Homo sapiens: one gene and its partners. The protein of the gene in region 2 purifies or fractionates together with the protein of the main gene of each other region. This does not show direct contact. Each region holds a gene or a part of one and is shown on either strand. Other genes may lie near its edges.

Region 1 (8,123 bases), on a different chromosome or scaffold from region 2:
GAGGTATTACGTTAACATAAACATAATACCTAAATTTGAAAAAATGCTAAGAGGGTTTTGAAAACAGATACTATATTAAAGTTACTGGCTGGGCACAGTGGCTCACACCTGTAATCCCAGCACTTTGGGAGGCTGAGGTGGGCAGATCACCTGAGGTCTGGAGTTCGAGACCAGCCTGGCCAACATGGTGAAACCCTGTCGCTACTAAAAATACAAAAATTAGCCAGGTGTGGTGGCGTGCTCCTGTAGTCCCAGCTATTTGGGAGGCTGAGGCAGGAGAATCATTTGAACCCAGGAGGCAGAGGCTGCAGTGAGCCAATACTGTTGTAGTGAGCCAGGATAGTGCCACTGCACTCCAGCGTGGCCAACAGAGTGAGACTCCATCTCAAAAAAAAAAAAAAAAAAAAAAACTATATTAAAGTTACAATAGCTGAGAACTGACTGGGCAGAAAAAAACTAAGATCATCAAAAATATAGTGTTATTTAACAGGGAAGGTACTTTACCAAGGACTTTTATGTTACTTATGTGTCAGGAATTCTTCTAAGTACTTAACATTATATTCACTAATCCTCCAAACTACCTTATGAGGAGGGAACTACTATTATTCTCATTTTATATGAGACTATGAAGCTAAAATTTTATATGAGACTATGAAACTAAAATTTTAAAAAGATTAAGTAACTCTAGTTTATAGTGTTACCTTTTGAAATGTTTGTACATCTTAAGTTTCACAACCTGGCTCCACCAATATAAAACTGTATGCTATTATATGTTCATCTAAGAATCAAAGGCAAACCAAATGTTGAATATGTCCATGTACTAGAATTAAATGTTCTTTCTGTATTTTCTTTCAAGGAACTTGTTTTTGCAGTTTATAGCACAGGAATCATACCTCAATTTGATGACAGATTTTGGCCTCCAGGGCAGCCATCTTTTCATTATCACCATTTTCAGCCATTGCGGCTATCTGTAAAATTTCCCAAATTAGCATAAAGTTATTTTTTATATAAAACTCAAGAATAGAAAGATAATGTTTACAAAGTATTAATATCCCGTTTTCTTAAAAAATCAAGAATTTCTATTTTCACGGGTTCAGTTTCTTTACTCAGTTCTCAAATATCTCAACAAAGCAACACTTTGGAATAAGTGATGAAAAAATCTAAAAACTATAAAAAACTTGTCTTTCAGTAAATCACTACCCCATCTTCTATAACAAGAAACTGTTTATCTTCACTTAGCTGGTCAAGCAAGCTTTAGGGAAAAAAACTCCAATCACTTACCAACCATTTCCAGTTTTAAACAGATAACTATCTATCTGTATATTACCATGGCTCTCTGTGCATTTGTTTGGTATGGGTTCACCTCTTTTTTTTTTTTTTTTTTTGAGACGGAGTCTCGCTTTTGTTGCCCAGGCTGGAGTGCAATGGTGCGATCTCGGCTCACTGCAACCTCTGCCTCCCAGGTTCCAGCGATTCCGCCTTCGCCTCCTGAGTAGCTGGGATTACAGGCGCCCACCACCACGGCTGCGGCTGACTAATTTTTGTATTTTTAGTAGAGACGGGGTTTCACCATGTTGGTCAGACTGGTCTTGAACTCCTGACCTCTGGCGATCCACCCGCCTCGGCCTCCCAAAGTGCTGGGATTACAGGTGTGAGCCACCGCGCCCGGCCTCATTTCTTTTAAAATGTAGTCACAACTGACTTACCCAAACCTTGTTACCAAGTTAGACATCATAACTTTAAGGTGAAAAATGTTACAGTTCCTTAGATACTCTATGCTAAGGAACATACGAAAACAAAAATGGGAGAATGTGGTCATACTAACACAACATTAAACTGGGGAGTATGCCTACTAATTTACTAATACATTGGATAGCCAGTTTCCTGTTTCGTATTCCTGACATTAGCACTGCAATGAAAAAAGGAAGCTGTGCTATTAGTTTGCTAGAAATTACAAACCAAGTCTTCTACTTACAAAGTACTTGCCTCCAGGACTCTACTAAGCCACCCAGTCATCCCAACTGTACAAAAGTTATGTGAACAAATCATCGAGAATATTGCCATTAGTTGACTCTAGTTATGAACTGATGTAGGTACACTTCCTGGAAGCATCCCCTGACACACTGCAATTGCATTCGATACCATGGATACACATAGGAAGCACTTGCAACGGGGTACTGTGTGATCCACATCCCCCTAGAGAAATTACTCAATTTTATGCATTGTCTTGTCTATCACAATCTACACTCCTAAGTTACTACCGTGATCTAGGGCCCCCTACAAAGCAAACGATGAAATAAAATAACTATTTAGACCCTGCAAAACCTATTTGGCCTAATTTTGGAACTGCGTTTCATCAGATACTTTTCCAGAATGTACGACTGTAAATGAAATATTACCCACGTTTTCCCGTTTCACACTGAAACCTGATGTGAGCGATGAAGGCCCTAACAGACCAAAAGAGTGACGCTGGTGTACATCTGCGGCCCAAAGTTCTTTGGCCTCCAGTCAGTCCCATAGGCTCCACAGAACCCTCCGGCGTTTACCCCGTGCCCACCTCCCCAGAAACTTTACAGAGATGGCCACAAGCCTTCGGTGAGACTAGAAGGCGGTGGAGGTAAAAAAAAAAAAAAAAAAAAAAGACGCAATGGGGATGAGGGCAGCCACAGTCCCGTCTCTAAGCAACCGCGGAACTGCCTGGGCACCAGCCACGTGCGGGGAACCCCAGGATCCCGCATTCCTCGCGGGGGCAGCCTCGCCGCCGCCCGCGCCCCCTCGGCTCCGCCGCCTCCGGCTGCGGCCCACGCGGCGCTCGGCCTGAACGTGAGGAAGGCGAGGGGCGGACGGACGCCGCGAGAAGCAGTAAAGAACGGAAACGCGCAGTCGCGCACCAGCAAAGCGGACCCTTTTGTAGCTTCTCATTAGCCACCGAGAGTTACTCACCTTTAAGGTTCCGGCCCACAGAAGCCGCGCCACAGGCTCACAAACAGCAACAGCAACGACTCCACCTCCCAGCGCCGCCGGCCAGCCTAAAGCGCTCCAAGAAGATGGGGACCGTCCCGGCAGCTCTTGCGGCCTGGGTGGGCAGGGCCACGGACGAGGTGGAGCGGTCCCTGTGCTCTGAGCATGCGCGGCTGCCGGGGCCTCCCAGGGACCCTGGAGTCCCGCCCTCAATCCCAAACAGATTGGGTTAAAAAGTACTCCAGGTTGTAGGGGAATGGCTGCTAGTTTGTGTTAGTATAAACATTTATTTTTAAGTATTTCTGGACGGCGTCTGTACCCCAGCCCTTCCTTTGGCCCTCCATTCATGTGAAGTGCTTTGGGTTTTTTTTCAGATATTTTCCAAAAATGTGTGTGAATACACACACACATCGTGTTGTAGTAGTTCTCAAAAAAAAAAAAAGGACAAGTGAAATTTAAAAAAAAAATCAAAGATCCATGAAATCTTAGAGTTTTGAAAACAATACAGTACAGCGTGTAAAAACTGGGTGTCTGGAATCAGACTGCCTGCTTCAAATAATGGTCCTCCTGCTGTGAAACTGTGATCTTGGACAAGTTGTTCAACTTCTCTGTTCCTCAGGTATAAATAGGGCCGGTAATAAATACTACCTAGTTCATACAATTGCTGTGAGTATTCAACTTGATGCAATATTGTCAACCTAAAGGGAAAAACTGAGGCAAAATTAATATAAGTAGACAGTTTATTTGAGCCAAGTTTGAGGACTGCCACATGAGAGCATGGATTCAAATTGCCCTGAATATATGCTCTGATTAGCAGCACTTACAAGTAGCTTTTAAAGAAAAAAGAAGAGGCAGTTCCTAAATTGTTTACCGATAACTTACATTACAATAACAAGCTATTGATTGGCTATACATTCTTCTTTGTATCACAAATTCGAAGAACATGAAAATGGATGAAGCAGGTAGTAAGGGACAAAGTGACTTGAAACAATTGCCCCCCAAGCATGGCGACTGATATAGTTTGGTTCTGTGTCCCCACACAAATCTCATCTCGAATTGTAATCCCCATAATCCCCAAGTGTGGAGGGGAGGAACCACACACAGGGTGGGAGGTGACTGGATCATGGGGATGGTTTCCCCCATGCTGTTCTCCTGGTGGTTTTATAGGGCAGTTTTCCCTGCTCTTGCTCGCTCCCTCTCACCTGCCACTGTGTAAGACATGCCTCTTCCCCTTCCACCATGATTGTAAATTTCCTGAGGTCTCCCCAGACATGCGGAACTATGAGTCAATTAAACCTCTTTTCTTTATGAATTACCGAGTCTTGGGTATGTCTTTATTGCAGTATGAGAACTAACTAATACAGGGGTGTAGGGACATGACTGAAGTCCCAAACTCATATCTCTCTGTGCCTGATAAATTCCGCATACCTCACATAGTTCAAACTGCTCTGGGCTCTTTTTTCTTTTCTTAAGGCCAATGAGAAAAAACATATTTAACAGGGTTGTGCTCAGGTAGTTTAAATTCAAATTAATTAGATTATCTTTTATCCACTCAAAGAATATTTATCTACTCTCTATTTTATGCCAGACACAATTGAAACCTTAATTCTTGTTTTGATCAAGTCAGTGAGAATATATGTATTTAACAGAACAAATAATATCAGTGTCAGGGTACTCTCATTCATCCATTCAGCTAACTGTTTATTACATGCCTGTTAATGTCCTGGTATGGAGGCTTAACACTGGGAATAGAAAGAAGAGTCAGAATCTGCCTAGAGACAGAGCCACCTAAACAAATATAACTGCTTCTTCATGTCCCACAACATCTGGGCAGAACTGCAGTACAGCCTATTATCAGAAGTCACACCGGCAAAAAAAACATTTATTTCATGTTCTCATCAGGTCCCTGGTCCTTTGCTCTCCCTTTCTTGTCTTTTCTTTTTTATCTTTTTCTTTCTTCTTCTTTTTTTTTAGACAGTCTCCCTCTGTCGCCCAGGCTGGAGCGCAGTGGCACCACCTCGGCTCACTGCAACCTCTGCCTCCCAGGTTCAAGTGATTCTCCTGCCTCAGCCTCCTGAGTAGCTGGGATTACAGGCGCCCGCCACCATGCCTGGCTAATTTTTTTATTTTTAGTAGAGTCAGCGCTTCGCCATGTTGGCCAGGTTGGTCTCGAACTCCTGGCCTCAGGTGATCCACCCGCCTCAGCCTCCTAAAGTGCTGGGATTACAGGCATGAGCCACCATGTCCAACCCTTTTCTTATCTTTTCTTTTTCTCCCTCGTTCCCTTCCAGAAGCAGAGTTCCATGCAGACACACCCTCTGAGGAAAATGAATTCCTGGCGGCAGACCAGGAAGCTTCATGTTTCATTTACAGTACCTAGGAGAGGACTCTCTCTCATACTGGTATCCATCTCTCATAGCATAACTTTGTAAGTCAGTACACTAAAAGACCATCTTTCTGGGTATACACTTAGTACAATTACTTTGAGAACAAATTGATAATATCTATTAAAGTTTAAGATGTGCATAGCTGATGGTGCAGAAAGTCCACTCTAAAGAATATACTCCCAGCCTGGCCAACATGGTGAAACCCTGTTTCTACTAAAAATACAAAAATTAGCCAGGCATGGTGGTGCATGCCTGTAATCCCAGCTACTAGGGAGGCTGAAGCAGGAGAATTGCTTGAACCTGGGAGGTGGAGGTTGCAGAGAGTCAAGATCGCGCCATTGCACTCCAGCCTGGGCGACAAGAGTAAGACTCTGTCTCATTAAAAAAAAAAAGATTATACTCTAGAGCAATGTTCACATCTGTACACAAGAAAACATGTTCAAGCATATTCGGGCGGGGTGCAGTGGCTCATGCCTGTAATCCCAGCACTTTGGGAGGCTGAGGAGAGTAGATCACAAGGTCAAGAGTTTGAGACCAGCCTGGCCAACATGGTGAAACCCCGTCTCTACTAAAAATACGAAAATTAGCCAGGCATGGTGGCACGTGCCTGTAATCCCAGCTACTTGGGAGGCTGAGGCAGGAGACTTGCTTGAACCTGGGAGGCGGAGATTGCAGTGAGCCAAGATCATGCCACTGCACTCCAGCCTGGATGACAGAGCAAGACTCCGTCGCTAAAAAAAAAAAAAAAAAAAAAAGAATATTCATAGCAATATGGTTTGTAAATTTAGGGAACTGGAAATCAACTAAATGTTCACCACAAAAGAATGGGTAACTAAATTAAATTGTGATATAATTAAATAATGAAATTCTATACAGTGAGAAAAATAAACTAGATCTACATGAATTGACATTGATAAATTTCACAAACATAATGCTGAGTTTAAAAAGAGATTTCAGAAGAAATATAAGTAGCAACCCCCAGTCACTGTGACAATGAAAAATCCCACCTACATTTCGAAACAGCTTCTTAATTATGAGGCTGGTTACTGCTCCCAGCCTCATATTAAGAACATTTAGTCTAGGGTAATAGCATTGCTCTATTTTGAAGATTTGGTTTTGTTACTGAATTGGGCTTGTTCTGCCTGTTGCACAATATGCCCAATCACTGAGACATCAAATTTTGCTGCAGAGAAAGGGTTTATTCATGAAGCAGCCAAGTGAGGAGACAGGAGAACAGATCTCAAATCCAGCTCCCAAAGATGGGGTTTTAGGGTATTTACGGGATAAAGGAGCAAGGTGGTCTGAGGCATGGGGAAAGGTAATTGGGGTAAGAAACAGTGAGGCAACTGGTGCTGTGCACAAGCATAGTCAAGCTTCATAGCTCTTCATAGGACACATGTCCACAAAATTGCAGCTTTAGCATGATCTGAGGGTGGAGCTCTTGGTCCTGTGATGCCAAAAGGTCACCCATTGGACACTCATGCAGGCCCAGTTGAAGAGTTGTTGGTCTCAGCTGGCTTAAGCTGGACAAGAGCTAACTCTAAGTTCCTGAAAAACAAGCAACCATTACCATGGTGACCTATATCTCAGATATGTAATCTGTAAGGAAGCTAATGGAATTTTATGTATATATTGCTTAGCTACATGACTTTTAGCTATTAAATATGTAGCTTTTAAAATTAACTAAAAACAAATGAGACAAGTTAAGTTTGGTGGGCCAAATCAGGTTAGCCCTCAGTTTCAGGTTGAAATGCTTATTAGACATCAAGGTAAAGATGTCAAGTAGGCAGTTGGTATGAGTTTGAAGAAGTCAGGGTTAAAGATATAAATTTTGGAACTATTAGTATATAGCAGACATTTTAAGTCATGTCATTATATGAGCTCTCCTAAAAAGAGTATAGACAACAAAGATGGGAGGATCCCAGACTGACCCCTCTAGCATTCGAATTTTTTGGATAATGAATAAAAGAAGAGAAGCCTGTACAGCAGCTAGAATAAGCAGACCCTGAGAGGTGCTATGAAAATATGGCACCATAGAAGCTAAAGAGTGGAATGTTTCAAGGAAGGAGGGACCAACTGAGTACATATTGCTGAGAAGATGCTATGGATTGTGTATGGGTCATGAGGATGGATCCCTTATGAGTGGCTTGGTGCTGTTCTTGTAGTAGCCAGTAACTTTCCCTTCTGATTGGCTCTCAGAGGAATGGGTTAGTTCCCATGAGAATGGGTTGTTATGAAACAATGGGTTGTTATACCAGGGTGCCCCTCAGATTTGGTCTTTCTTCACACATGCCTGCTTCTCTTTGACCTTTTCCACCATGTTTGACTCAGCAGAAAAGCCCTTACTGGGAGCCAAGAAGATGCTGGTGGGTGTCATGCTTCTTGTACAGCCTGCGAAATTGTGAGCCAAATAAACCTCTTTTAAAAAAAATTATCCAGCCTCGGGTATTCATTTATAGCAACACAAAACAGACTAAGACAGAAGATTTGCAAGCTGACCTAAACCAATTTTGTCATTGTGGCAGATACTGTCACTTATCTCTTGGCTCTCTCCTTCCTATATAATAATAAAATCACCTGTGGCTTTCAACAAAATGTATGGCCAATCAGAAATAAAAACTACATTTTTCCAGCCTTCCTTGAAGCTTAGTAAGACAATGTCTGGCCTATGAGACATGAGTGGAAGTGATGTGTGCAACTTCCAGGTAATTCTTAAATGCAATGAATTTATTCTCTTACCTCACTTTCTCTTTTCTTCAACTAGCTAGATGTGGA
Region 2 (6,016 bases):
GGTCAGGAGTTTAAACCCAGCCTGGCCAAGATGGTGAAACCCCGTCTCTACTAAAAATACAAAAATTAGCCAGGAGTGGCGGCATGCGCCTGTAGTCCCAGCTACGCGGGAGGCTGAGGCAAGGAATTGCTTGAACCCAGGAGGTGGAGGTTGCAGTGAGCCAAGATCATGCCACTGCACTCCAGCCTGGAGGCTCTGTCTCAAAAAAAAAAAAGAAAAGAAAAGAAAGAAAGAAAGAATAAATAGGGGTTCTCCTCCCTTGCATTTTTTCTTCCTAGGACTTGTCACTTTCTAACAAACTGTGTAATTTACTTATTTTTGTTTACTGTCTGTATCTGCTGCTGGAATATAAACTCCATGAGTGAGGGATCTTTGTTTTGTTCAATGTTTCTCAAGTGTTACAATGTCCAAACACAGATATTCAATAAATATTTGTTGAATGATAGTTTTACAAACTGCTAACGGGAGGATTTCTGAAATTTTACTTGGTAACATCTCCATGTTGCCTTAAGACATTCCTCACTGACATCAATTGAATTCTTGAAACCTTGATTTACTCCTGATATTTTGGATCTACTGGAGCATCTTTAGTTATAATCCTCATAATAGGACTTAGCAACTATTTATACATCTTCCTTCTCCTCCATGAAAATGCATATGCTAGCTTTCCTTCATGGAAAGAGAAAAACTTCATGGAGCGGGTGAGTGGGAACTTGCCATGGCACTAACTTTGTAGCAATTAGCTGTCACTCCAACCAGTGAGATGGCCAATCTCCTCAAATATTTGGCTTATAGAAGTGAACAGATCCTGATTGTAGCCTCTCCACAATCCATGGAAGGGGGTGGCCAAATAAGACCCTCAATTTTGGATAAAGCTGACAGATTCAGGATTTGGTTTGTAGCCCAATGAAATTAACTCCATGGCTGTCCAGAGTACTTCCTTGAGATTTTGATAAGAGATTAAGATGACAGTCCTGTATGGACCCAGTTAAGTTCAATTCTGGGAAGGCTTTAAATGCTTCACTCCCATGATTTTCCTGAATAAAATAACAGAGCTCAGTTCTGCCTAAGGTTGATTCCTCTATTTTTTCCTTCTTGTGCTAATAGCACCTAATACATTTTATTTTGTCTAACCAAAACAAAACATTTAACTTGATTTATGAAGAAACTCAATTCTTTTAAAAATTTAACATTTTAATTAGAACCAATCCCTATGGTCTATTGTTCAATGGAAGCTCAGATAGGCAAAGTGGAATGAATAGAATGAACTATTAAACATGTCTGTATAAATCAACATGAAAAGGTATTGAAGGTATTGCAAGTTACAAACTAAGTACAGTGAGAGTTTAGTGTTAAACATTTCTCTAAACTTTATATATATTCATGTAGTATTTTTGCAATTATGTTTTGTTTTTACAGTATAAAAACAAAATCAACACATTTCCAAATAATGTTCAAAACACATTTATTTACTAAATCACCTGACACTGACATCTAAGATAATTTCAACAAATAAAATGTTTAAGAAAAATTGTGGTATACATCATATTTGTCTCTAGAAAAAAGTCTTATTTACAAGTTGAGGAACAAAGATATTTCTTTTAATTAAAAACACATTAATTATGCAGTGCTACCATAATAAAAGTGAATCTCCCAAGAACAGCTCAAGTATCTTGTGAAGTATTAAGAGGTGAACTGTTTTTTTTTTCAATCATATTCAGAAAATCTTATATGTTTACTCGCTTGTTGAGTCTTTGCCAGTCTAATCTTTTCAGCTTTGGTGATTAACTAAAGAGAAATAAATCAAAAATTAAAATGTATTGGATACTCAAAACACACACACACACACACACACACACACACAAAACTATGACTAGAAAAAATTTCACAGCTATCAGCTTAAATGGAAATTTTTTAAAAACAGCGAGAAGATGACAAATGAGATAATTATGCTCAGGTCAAATCAATTACAAATCAAATCTGTTATTAAGGCTATTTACTATTTCCTATTTCTTACACCCTTACATAAATTGTTGAATATTTTTAAGGAAGGCAAATGAAATTACACAGAATAAAAAAGAAAACTGTTTAAAATGTCTAAAATATTCCAAAAGCTTCCTTGAGAAAAAAAAGTTAAAATATTAAACTTTGGAGTAAATGCAAATCTTTTTCTCTAAAAAATATAGATTCTAATGAGTATTCATTTAAATAGTTTTAAAGTGTTTGGTACCATATGGCAATTGGAAGGAATTCACTTTTAGATTAAACTAAAAGCCTATTATTCATCATTGAGGTGAATTAAAATCCAAAGATGTTTAGAACTCTATCATACCCATGCTGCTGTTCACAAATTTTATAAATTCTGCCTTTACCTGCTGAGTATCAGTAATTTTTACAGAAAAGAATTCAAATGTTTTAAAAGCCAAAGAGAAATAAGCTTCATTCTGTCTCTAGTAGCTGTTATCTATTTTTACCAATGTGTTCAAAATCATAGGGCATACTACAAAGATTTAGGCTAGCAAAATGAATAGGAGACATCCCTTTTGGCAGACCTTTCCTTCATCTTCTTGATCTTTTGTGATACATCACTAATTTAATTTACTTGTGTTTAATATATTATTTTAGTTTCGTTTTTTTGAGACAGAGTCTTGCTCTGTTGCCCAGGCTGTGGTGCAGTGGCGCCATCTTGGCTCACTGCAACCTCCACTTCCTAGGTTCAGGCAATTCTCTTGCCTCAGCCTCCCCAGTAGCTGGGATTACATGTGCGTGCCAGCTGGCTAATTTTTGTATTTTTAGTAGACAGGGTTTCAATATGTTGGCCGGGCTGGTCTCCAACTCCTGACCTCAAGTGATCCACCAGCCTCAGCCTCCTAAAGTGCTGGGATTATAGGCATGAGCCACCGTGCCTGGCCCCATAATGTGAATATTAAGAGCCAGAATTTTTTTACTTTTACTCAATTATGGGCCAAATACAACACTATTGTAGAAATATTGGGCTGTCAGGTCAGTAAGGTATTTATGTAACCTTTTGGCAGATTCACTGATGTTCTACTAGTTTTTTTTCTAAGCAATTTCCATTACTTACTAAGATGCTCCTAGTACTCCAACTACACTGGTCTTCTAGTCCCTGACAGTCTTCCCTTCCGGTCTCTGCATTTTCTTTGCTTCTGCCTGAAAAGCTATACTTCTAAACTTTACTGGGGCTTACTCGCTCACTTCCTTATGGGTCTTGGCTGTAACATAACCTTTGCAGAGAGTTTTCCAGACAACCTCAGCTGTTACAATGCTCTCCTGCAATACACTTTATTTTTCTGTCTAGCACTGGTCATCACCTAAACTATATTGTTTATCTGTTAGCTTCATGAAAGTAGGGGACTTTGTGATTCATGGCTTTACCCCAGGTTCCAAGAATGGTGCCTAACACAAGGCACTCAAAAATCATTAGCTGAATTAACTAGCAAACAAGTTGGCTAAACTAATTATGGTCTACTCCTTTTTTCCAACAAGCTTTGCACAGCACTTACTTTCTGTGTTAACCTCCGTTTCATTTCACGACAAGAGTCAACTGGCTACTTCCATAGCTACTTAACAAATTGCGTTAACGACAATCCTGACGTCATAACTGAGTTGTGTTCCAACTCAATTTAAGAACTTCCTAGTCAAAGATGAGCTCTAAATTTTTAAAATGAAAAATAAAAGGTTTATTCCTAGTTTTAAAAATATATAAAATCTAAATGAAATTTCACACCAATTAGAAGGGTATTATTTAACAAAGTGACTTCACTTCAGTTACCAGTTCTGGATTAGTGATTTTAACATTTGAATAATCTCAAACTGGCTTTGAAATTAACACCTCATATCCCTGAAAGAATCCTTGGGAAGCACAGGAGGCTTCCCCACCACAGCAAGTTCAGTCTCCTTTCAAGGAAACAAAATTCACACCTCCCCACAAATCACGATAAATTCTGGGCAATGGTAGAAGAAGGTTGATGAAAAACACTTGCTTTTTAAGTTAGTTTTTTTTTTTTTTTGTATAAATATGACCCCAAATCAACAAGCTTAGATTACAGGAAATAGGACTTTTAACTTGCTCACCTAACAAAAAAGGAAGTTCATCTTTTTCATTTTTCTTACACTTTTATAATATGCATTTCTAAATTTTGATGACTGTAGTTAATATTAGGTATTATGTACCCTACTTTGTTCCAGGCACTTTTAAAATGTACTAACCTTTACATGTATAATAATTTGTTTTAAAACTTTAAGAGACAGGGTCTTGCTATGTTGCCTAAGCTGGAAAGCAGTGGCTATTCCCAGGTGTGATTCCACTACTGATCAGACCAGTATCATTTTAAGTGACAGAAAAATAAAATTACTGAAAGAGGGGCTTGCTTTAAATTATTTAAGCTTGTTTGTATTACCTACTATCTTAGAGAAAGAGGAATAAAGCTTATCGTTGCTATAGGAAACACTATGCATAAAGTCTCTCCATCTTATCTATGGAGCCTCCTATCTTTATAAACTACATTCTGAATACATTGTGTTTTTACCATGAAGATAATCTTTCTATAATCATTTATCACCAAACTACAAGACATAGCAGCCAGATATCAAGACTGTTAAAGTATATCACTGGTTAAAAAGAAAAAATCTAAATTAAAATTATGTATCCTTGTGAGAAAAATAATTCAATTTCATACATTTTGAAATCTAGAGAAATGACTTTTCCCTCCCAACCTAAAACATAGTATATACTCAGTAAATTTTTGTTAGGTAATAGCAAAACTACGATCATTTTATGACTACCTAGTACTGACTTTGGCATTAAACGTTCAAGGAAAGTTTAGTCTAAAAAAACAAAAATGAATCAATTACCTTTTCAGTGCCTCTTTTCTTTTCCCGAGGCTGATTAAGTTTTGCCTGTCTATCAACCAAAATCTTCTGCCAATACCTTTGTTCGTGATCACCTTAAAAACAAACAAAGACTCTGATGGATGAAAAGAAGAACATATCTGAAAAACCATATTCAAGGCATTACATTCTCAATAATAGTAACTAGGACAGTTTTTGATTATATTTAATGCTACTTTACACATATTACAGAATAGAAAAAAAATAGTTAGTTTTGCCAGGTGCGGTGGCTCAAACCTCTAATCCCAGCACTTTGGGAGGGCGAGGAGGGAGGATCACCAGAGGTCAGCCTGGCCAACAAGGCAAAGCCCCTTCTCTACTAAAAATATAAAAATTGCCTGGTGCAGTGGCTCATGTCTGTAATCCCAGCACTTTGGGGGGCCAAGGCAGGCAGATCACCTGAGGTCCGGGGTTCGAGACAAGACCAGCCTGACCAACATGGAGAAACCCCGTCTCTATTAAAAATGCAAAATAGCGGGGCATGGTGGCACATGCCTGTAATCCCAGCTAACCTGGGAGGCTGAGGCAGGAGAATCACTTCAACCCGGGAGGCAGAGGTTGCAGTGAGCCGAGATCGCACCACAGCACTCCAGCCTGGGCAACAAGAGCGAAACTCTGTCTCAAAAAATAAAATAAAAATATAAAAATTAGCCGGGCGTGGTAACACACGCCTGTAATCCCAGCTACTCTGGAGGCTGAGGCAGGAGAATTGCTTGAAACTGGGAGGTGGAGGATGCGGTGAGCTGAGATCACACCACTGTACTCCAGCCTGAGCGACAGAGCAAGACCAAAAAAAAAAAACTAGTTTCATTAGCCAAACTCAGAAAATATATTACTCACAATAAGGATGATAACAAAAAAAAAAGGAAACGTCTATGAAGTTTTACCAGAAAGGATCTCGAGTTTCCAGCAGTGTTTCTTGTTAATTTCTGTATAGGCATTTATTACTGCTTGAGCATCCTCAGGAGTTTTAAATCTAGCATGGCATTCTGTATCCCCTTCTAGCAAATCAACATAAAGAACTTCTGAGATTGCTGCCAAAGTATCCTGCATTAGAGTTAAGTAGAAAGACAAATAAAATTTAAAAAGTTTCACAATAATTCTA
Region 3 (8,101 bases), on a different chromosome or scaffold from region 2:
AACTCTCTGCCCAACCTGAGCCTGATGCCCAAATGGCTAGAAACACAGAGTCAAGCTGGGTGAACTCACTTCTAATTTATGATCGTTATCCTATTACTTATAAATTTACCATCTCTATTTTCTGTTCTAGAGGGTTCTTTGCCCCAAACTTTTCAAACTTCCTCTTTACTTTCGTCTCAATTTAGCAACCAAAGGCTTCCATGTCTTCCCATTAACACATGCGTGCCCATGTATTCTTGTTTCTTACACAGGAAAACGGCAGGTTCCTAACAAAAGGTCAACATTTTCACCTGTGGGCAAAACCCTACCCTCTCTGAGAAAGAAAACAGTTCCAGCAGTCACTTTCCTGCCATCAACTGTTATCCTGGATTGCATTTCAGCCTATAAATGTTATTTCTCAACAAAAAACCTCCCTTTTTGACCCCCCATTTTCCCCTTACTACTATTAGTCTCATTTTCAGCAACACTTGTACTATACTCTGTCTTAAGATTTCCCTTTCAGTTTGCTCTTGAACCCACACCAGTCAGAATTTCACACCATTCCATGCATTAGGGGCAGCATGTTTCATTTACTCTCATTTGAACAAAAGATTCCTGCACAGTTTGGAAAGTCTAGCATTCATTGATAACTTCCAAGCAATTTTATGTTACTTCTGCAACTATCTGGCAGGACTGAGCATTCTAAACATTGAAACACGTAGACATTAAGTCTAACTTAAACCAAAAGGCAAAAACCTCTGCACTGGAGGGGTAACAATGGACAAAGATACCTTTCTAAGAGACAAATCAACCGCAAGCTTGTTTGTCAATATAAAGACAAACAATTTACTCAACGGTGAACTGAAGCACTGAATACAAACACAAAATTATGCTATTTTTAAGGACATCAATGAAACTAGGCAAAACATTTAAGCTCTTCAGTGTAACAAAAGGTAAACCAAAGATTCTGCTGCTGGAACCCATGGACTTAACAGATGGACTGCCATGAGAGGCTATTTTAGACCTACTCTGAAAAATAAAAACCCATCTATCTTCAACATCCAGCATCTGGCTAACACAATCTCCTGGTAGAAAACTGAATCAGAGATCTTCAATTGTGGTAGTGATCAGTTAGGACCTCAGCTCTTTTAACTGAAAACTCAGGACAAGACATATTAATACAAAAAATATGATGACATCAGCTGCTCTTGCAAAACTCTCAATGTACATGTGCTGATAAATACATGTAATACAACCTCGACTAGATTCCCTAGTTCCTAAAACTTCACTAAGTGCTCCAACTTTGGTAAAATTTAAAAACCTATATACAGAAACCCCCTCTTATAGACTCACAGTATATTTTGGATATGTTGGATACTTCTAGAATAATAAACTTGACACTTAAAAATTTGGGGATTTAAAAGTTGCGATTTAAGTGATCAGTTAAGATGCGTTATTACTGTATTGGTTTGATTCTTCAGAGGTACCTGTCAGCTTTTGGGGATCACCTATGAAAACTCAATGCTTTGATATCAAACCCTTAGAGAAACAACTATTACACCATCCTATCCTACCACCGTGGGACTGGGAACACTGCCTCAAAGTATACTACGGCATGGACTAAAATATGCTTGGTTCATGGAATTTTTCCTCGATTACTCTAATAATGACATCTATTAATAAGATTTCTAATACCCACTCAAGTAGATAGTTGTCTAACGACAGACTGGATTTCCCCCCGCAGAATGTAAATTCTTGGTGGAGCAATTTCATTTTGCAACTTTGAGCTGACAACTCCCAACTCCAAAAAAAAGGGGGTACATATCTAAACTGAGAAGTGTTTAGTGGAAGATAATGTATGCCATTTCAAGTGATAACACTGTTGATTCTTCACTAATGCCATGGTACAATTCAGATACTCCTAATGCTTTCCTTTCTCCCTACCAAGGAGGCAGGTTTAAAAGGTGTGGTTTAAAATATTATCTTACCTGTTCAAGGACAGAAAATTTGAAATTCCAAACCCTCATCATTTTCTAAAAAAATTTATGTATAAAGCAGACCTCATCTATACAAGCTGTTTTTAATAGGTTCACCTCTTAGGCATCTGATGAAAGAAAACGTGAAGTGTTAACAGAAAAATGAGTCTGCAGGAGAGGCATGATATTGCTGAGTCCTAACACGGGTTTGAGGAAATTTTAATAGAAACATGTTTACGTGGACCATACCTGCGGAATCGTGGTCTATATCCCCGATACATATTCTGCCTCACTGGTCTACCTTGTTCTCCTGCACCCTGGTTGTCAGCACCCTGAAAAAGACAATGGAAATTAAGCCTACTGGGTCAGTAATATAATAAAAAAACCCAACCAGATAAATCCAAGAGTTAAAAAACAAACAAAACAGACCATCTAGTAATTGTGACTACATTATAAATTAATCCTTTTGGTTCTTACTAGGAATCCAAGTTGCTTTCCATATAATTAACAGCTCTAAACAGTCCTACCAGAACTTATCACATTGCTGTTGTTGATGGTGAAACTTACCTCCATCACTTCTCCCTGCACAGGAGGGTTGGAATACTGTGGTCGACGCCCATAGGGTCTCCGCATGTAGTAAGGTGGGAACCTTCGCCTGCGGTAGGGCCGGCGTTGTTGGGCCTGGCCTTCGGGAGCACTCTCCGATCCCTCGTTCTTTTCCCCACTCTCACTATTCTGGTAATTTTGCTGGTAATTGCGTGGAGGACCCCTACGACGTGGATAGCGTCTATAATGGTTACGGTCTGCTGCATATTTACTGCCTTGAACTGGAACACCACCAGGACCTGTAACATTTGCTGCCTCCGCACCCTACAAAAGCCATTACATATTGATAGTGACAAAGGAAATCAGAACACTTTCAACACTTTCAAAAGGAAATCAGAACATTTTCAAACAAAGCAAAAAACAACAAAGTTAAGGAAAAAAAAGGGGGGGGGGGCGCAACTGCGTGACCAGGGGTGCACAGAAATGACTAAATATCAGTTCCTCACTGTTCTGAAGAGATTGCCCTCTAACTGCAGCCAGAACATTAGGCTTGATGCACCTGTGTTCATGAGGTCACCTGAACACATCCATCCACATTAGAGCCACCATCCTAATGGATGAGACCTCCAAAATATTTCCATACTGAAGTCAAACCTTTACACAAAAAGCATCCTCACCTTTTCTCCTTCAACAACATCAAACTCCACAGTCTCTCCATCTCCTACACTGCGAAGGTACTTCCTGGGGTTATTCTTCTTTATGGCAGTCTAGTAATATCACATTCCAAAAATAGATTAACAGGGGAGAATAATGTGCTTTTTCATTTAAAATGTACCAGAGTCAATATTATTTTAGCTTGGATATACACTTAAGATTTGCTTTAAATAAGACCAAACCATCAATAAATTTAGGAAAGCGGGGACCACACTATCCCCAACTTCAACAAAAACACTCCAATCATACAAGGCCCCAGCATTGTACCACTATTTACAAAACTAAAACAAGTAATTTAACACTCAAGACAGACACATCATTTTAAAAACTGCTTTTTGCAAAAGCATTATATATAACTTTTAACAAATGAGGATATCCATCTATCCCCTGAGGACTGCACTTAATAGGAGAAGGTGGCCCCACACTGCGTCAGTTTAGATGACAGGCGAGTTTGGTTTTGCATGCTTCAAAGCTGACCAAACCAACTTTGCCCCTGTGTTACCGTATCAAACTCAATTACAAATGTCAACCAAAATCCCTTCCAATCTGATAATACATCAGTGGAAATGCAATTCATGTGTATTAACTATGTCATTCTTTATATGATCTGACTGCATGGAATTGTTAGTTATCACCTCCCCAGAATTCAATAAATCTTGTATTAGAGACTTGTTGCTTCTACTTTCTCCAGACTGTTAAGAGAAGGGAGGAAGAGTAACATCTCACGTTTCTATGAAATTTTTTTGCAACATTCTTTCACTTACTATCTATTCAATCTCATTATGAGACAGGACATGTGAAAGTATTGTTAATCCCATTACACAGATAATGTAACAGGCTTTAAAGTTAGGTGACTTGCCCAAGGTCACACAGTTAGTAAGGAGACTTTCTAAACCCAGGTATTGGGTCTCCAAATCCCATGTTCACTCCAAATCTCAGCTATATCCATTACAGGATCACTCATGCATTTCCATTGCAGAGGAGACAGGACAATCAACGAATCTGAGGCCAATTAAGTGAAGCTGCCCAGAACTGCAGTCTCCCTGATACACCACTAAGACCTGAGCAGCCAAAGTCCCAAGAAACAACTACATGTTGAAACCACTTCCAAAAAAATGAAAGCATATTGGTGGCACCTTGTGAATCAGTACAACTGGGTGAGTTGAGTCAAATAATTGATCTCATCTGTCATCTAAACTGTCACATAGTTTTCATACCTTTCAGATATAGCCAACTATCAATTACCTGCAGTCATAGGGGATAGCAGAATTATGGATAATTAAAATCCCAACTCTTTATTTTTATCAACATCTCCACCCCTGCCCCAACCCCAACCCTTAAGGGTTGCCAACAGGCAACAAGACCGAGAAACTTTGCTGTCTCTTGTTCCTAAGTCTACACATTCTTTTGAACATGCAGAAGGGGAGTAAGGAACAGTTGAGCTGTGTTCTTCCAAACAAGAATACCAATTTTATAAAACATCTACTTTAAAACAACATTTTGTCTGAAGTAGTCCTGTATTTATTTACATTTAGAATTTAAATGATTCCATAATTACATTTGACCCTGAACTACCTGATTGGGTTTGGGTGTACTAGAAATTGATATAGCTTCCTCCTTGTCATCAAATACTGTGTAGGACACTTCAGTGAGCTACAAAGCACCAACCTATGACAGCCCTTCCTATGAAACATGCTGCCATAAAAGCTAGTATCTAATTAAATGTGAGTATGGATATTAACTTTTAGGTCTTTTGATTTCTGGATTATAGTACAAAAAAGTAGTTATGGTCTCTAATTTTAATACAAGTTGACAATATTTCAAAAGCCTTAGTGAGAAAACTGATAGCACAAACATATTTTTTCCTACTCATTTCGTATCTGTGAGGATAAGTACATTCAATGTAGCCTACAGCATATCTAAATTTGAAGTATTAACATACACTTGGCAGTGGTTTACATTAGTAATAATCTTAATTCCTGAATGTGCAAACATTTTCCCTAAATGATACTTAGGGAGAAAGTTCACTATGCAGTACTCATCAGTACTCATCCTATGTTAACAGTTTTCTCTTCCCAAATCACTGGAAGCCAATCTAAAAATTATTTAATGAGCAGCTGCCAACCTTGTCACACTTCCCCCCACTTAACCTTAAACTAGTGAAATTTTTTCATTTTCCAAGCCAGCCAAAACTCTCCAAAGGTTTAAAAAAAAAAAAAACCCAATACCCATTCAAAGTGATTTAAAGTAAGCAGAAGGCTCTTTATGCTACTTTTCAAGTACTCACTTCAATTACTATGTTTTGCAGGTCTGTCTTATTTACCCTTGATTATGGAGATTTGTCCCTACAGGTACACCTAAAAGCCTTTGAAAACTTCTTGCCAAAGTTTCTGTGTATTTATAGCAACATTATTTGTTCAACTTTAGAATCATGGAATAATCTGTTCATCTGAAATTAGGTATAAATATTTAATGCAGTGAGTTTGACTCAACATTTGAGAAAGCCACAGCTGTTGACAAAATTCCAATTTGAAATGTCTAGGATAATTAAGTCAACTCTAACACATTTCCACGTATACATTTTTAAGCATGCTACTACTCCTGTCGTAAGTAAATAAACTGGTGGTTGGACTTAACCTTTTATAAGGAACAAAAGCTGAGAACATATCTAACCTTTTCTTCTTACAATCCTTGAATCAGAAGTGCAAATATCTACACAAGCACTCACCTGGTGTACAAATACATCTTCCTTGGTGTCATTCCTGCAAGACAGAACCAAGTTGAACAAGTTAGAAAATGAAATAAATCTCATGTTGTCAAAGATTAATTTTCCCAGAGACTCTCTGGCTGCCAATTAGGTACCAGGAAATTTGGCAAAAATCAAAAAACACAAGCCACCATGCTCTCTGCTTTCAAGACTTCAGCAGTTGCAAACAGTTGTAGCCTCATTACCCGTAAGATAGGCAAAAAAAAAAAAAAGTCTAAGAAATTAAAGTGTGACCTACTGAGCCATAATTAAGAGGGTAGCAATGACTAGCAAAATATATTCTGCCCCTCCTTATCCTATTAAACATTAACTGTTCTAGCACACCCTCCTCTTACCTCTAGAGCATGGTTACCAACAGAAGTAGTAGTTACATTCTCACCTTATCCTGCATCTCCCAACTACCAACTTTCCTTGAGATCATAAAAATGAGAACCCCCCTCCCCACCAACAGAATGTATAACGCAAAGAGTGAAACCTAATGGGAACTGTGACCTTTGGGTGATAAGGTATGTTTGAATGTAAGAAAAGCCCAGTTATAAAAGCTACTCCACAAGTCCAGACAAGGACTGATGAAGGTTTAGACCACGGAGCCATGTATAAAAAGACATTTGAGATCTCTTTTTGAGGCAAAATGAGAAACTTTGTGGATGACTGGATGTCAGAAGCGAGGGGGTAGAGAATAATCTCACTTTTTAGCCTGGATATTGGGATTAAGGTGATAACACGAGGAGCAAGAATCACCACTGGAGAAGGAAACGGATTTCCAGGCCTGCAGTGGCCTGCCTCACCCTCTTTACTCCGTCAGGTCAGAGTGAGAAAAAGCTCAGTAGTAGCTCTAGCGTTTAATGACAAAGGGAACAAAGGTTACAATGAACTGGACAAACTGGCTTACTGACTGTTAGCTTCTTGCTGAACTGGGGGCAACATATGCATCAAAGGATCCACATAAAATTAACTTTAAATCTGACCTGTAAATTATAGCTTGGATTATTATAAGAACATTTTTAATTGATGGGAACAGGATAATTAAAAAAACAGAACAGGTAAACTGTAAAAGCGACTTAAGGCAAGTGACTGAAAACTGACCTTTCAAGCTAGATGATTAGGATTGCCTAGGGAAATGATGGCTGTACCTAATGTCCATCTGTCCATAACTCCATAGGCACCACAAAAACAGATTACAGCCATCATTTATTAGTTCTGCTCTCCAATATGACTGAATTTCAAACTCTAAGGCTCTAAGGGGAAATACAATAAAAAACTGGTAGAGTAAGAAAGGCAAATACAGGCAAAGTCTAGAATAGTGATTTTCAACAGGGGCAATACTTCCCCTGGCAGGGTATTTAAAGTTTTTCCAGTCCGGGTGCAGTGGCTCACGCCTGCAATCCCAGCACTTTGGGAGGCCAAGAGTTCAAGATCAGCCTGGCCAACATCGTGAAACCTCGTCTCTACTAAAATTACAAAAAATTAGCCAGGCGTGGCTGTGTGTGCCTATAGTCCCAGCTACTCTGGGGGGTGAGGCAGGAGAATTGCTTGAAGCTAGGAGGCGGAGGTTACAGTGAGCTGCTGCACTCCAGCCTGGGCAACAGAGTGAGATTCCATCTCAAAAAAAATAAAAAAATAAAATTTTTTTCCAAAGATAGGGAGCACTATCTGCATTAATGGAAGTGGTGGGTGTTAGTTGCTAGAAGACTATGTAAAGATTTGGTATAGAAAGTAAATTTGTTTATTGTTATCTGAGTCATGTATGTATTTCTGTACTGTTTTAATACGCATTAAATTCACTAAAAATGCAGCTTCTGTGGAGAATTTTTCATTACTGATAATGCTACTCATGGTATCTGGGTAATACATCATTTCTTTATCAATCCATTTTGTGGTGGCTCTGACTGTTTGTTATGCCTTCTAATGTAGTTACAACAGGTATTCACATATCAATATCATCATACCCGGCAATAAAAATAATTAAAAGTAGTTACGTGGCGAGACCCTATATCTATAAAAAATAAAAAATTAGCCGGGCCTCCATTCAAGTCCCGGAAATGAGGGTGCAGTGAGCTATAATCATGCCACTGTACTCCATCCTGCGCAACAGAGCAAGACCCTGTCTCTGCACAGA

Evidence for each region. The genes of interacting proteins can lie anywhere in the genome.
Region 1: the proteins of LARP7 (region 2) and SSB purify together in Homo sapiens (affinity purification with mass spectrometry; 4 studies listed by BioGRID and IntAct, with this or other methods). This does not show direct contact.
Region 3: the proteins of LARP7 (region 2) and YBX1 purify together in Homo sapiens (affinity purification with mass spectrometry; 5 studies listed by BioGRID and IntAct, with this or other methods). This does not show direct contact.

What each region holds. Positions count from the first base shown.
Region 1 is NC_000002.12:169,793,797-169,801,919, reverse strand, and holds the start of SSB (lupus La protein), read right to left. Parts: upstream 3,050-8,123; 5' UTR 2,944-3,049; intron 2,619-2,943; exon of another isoform or gene 2,404-2,618; intron 969-2,403; 5' UTR 960-968; coding exon 894-959; intron 1-893. UniProt on the Homo sapiens protein: Binds to the 3' poly(U) terminus of nascent RNA polymerase III transcripts, protecting them from exonuclease digestion and facilitating their folding and maturation.
Region 2 is NC_000004.12:112,653,019-112,659,034, reverse strand, and holds the end of LARP7 (la-related protein 7), read right to left. Parts: intron 5,959-6,016; coding exon 5,799-5,958; intron 4,968-5,798; coding exon 4,876-4,967; intron 1,789-4,875; coding exon 1,708-1,788; 3' UTR 1,449-1,707; downstream 1-1,448. UniProt on the Homo sapiens protein: RNA-binding protein that specifically binds distinct small nuclear RNA (snRNAs) and regulates their processing and function.
Region 3 is NC_000001.11:42,691,366-42,699,466, reverse strand, and holds part of YBX1 (Y-box-binding protein 1), read right to left. Parts: intron 5,978-8,101; coding exon 5,944-5,977; intron 3,269-5,943; coding exon 3,179-3,268; intron 2,826-3,178; coding exon 2,523-2,825; intron 2,288-2,522; coding exon 2,205-2,287; intron 1-2,204. UniProt on the Homo sapiens protein: DNA- and RNA-binding protein involved in various processes, such as translational repression, RNA stabilization, mRNA splicing, DNA repair and transcription regulation.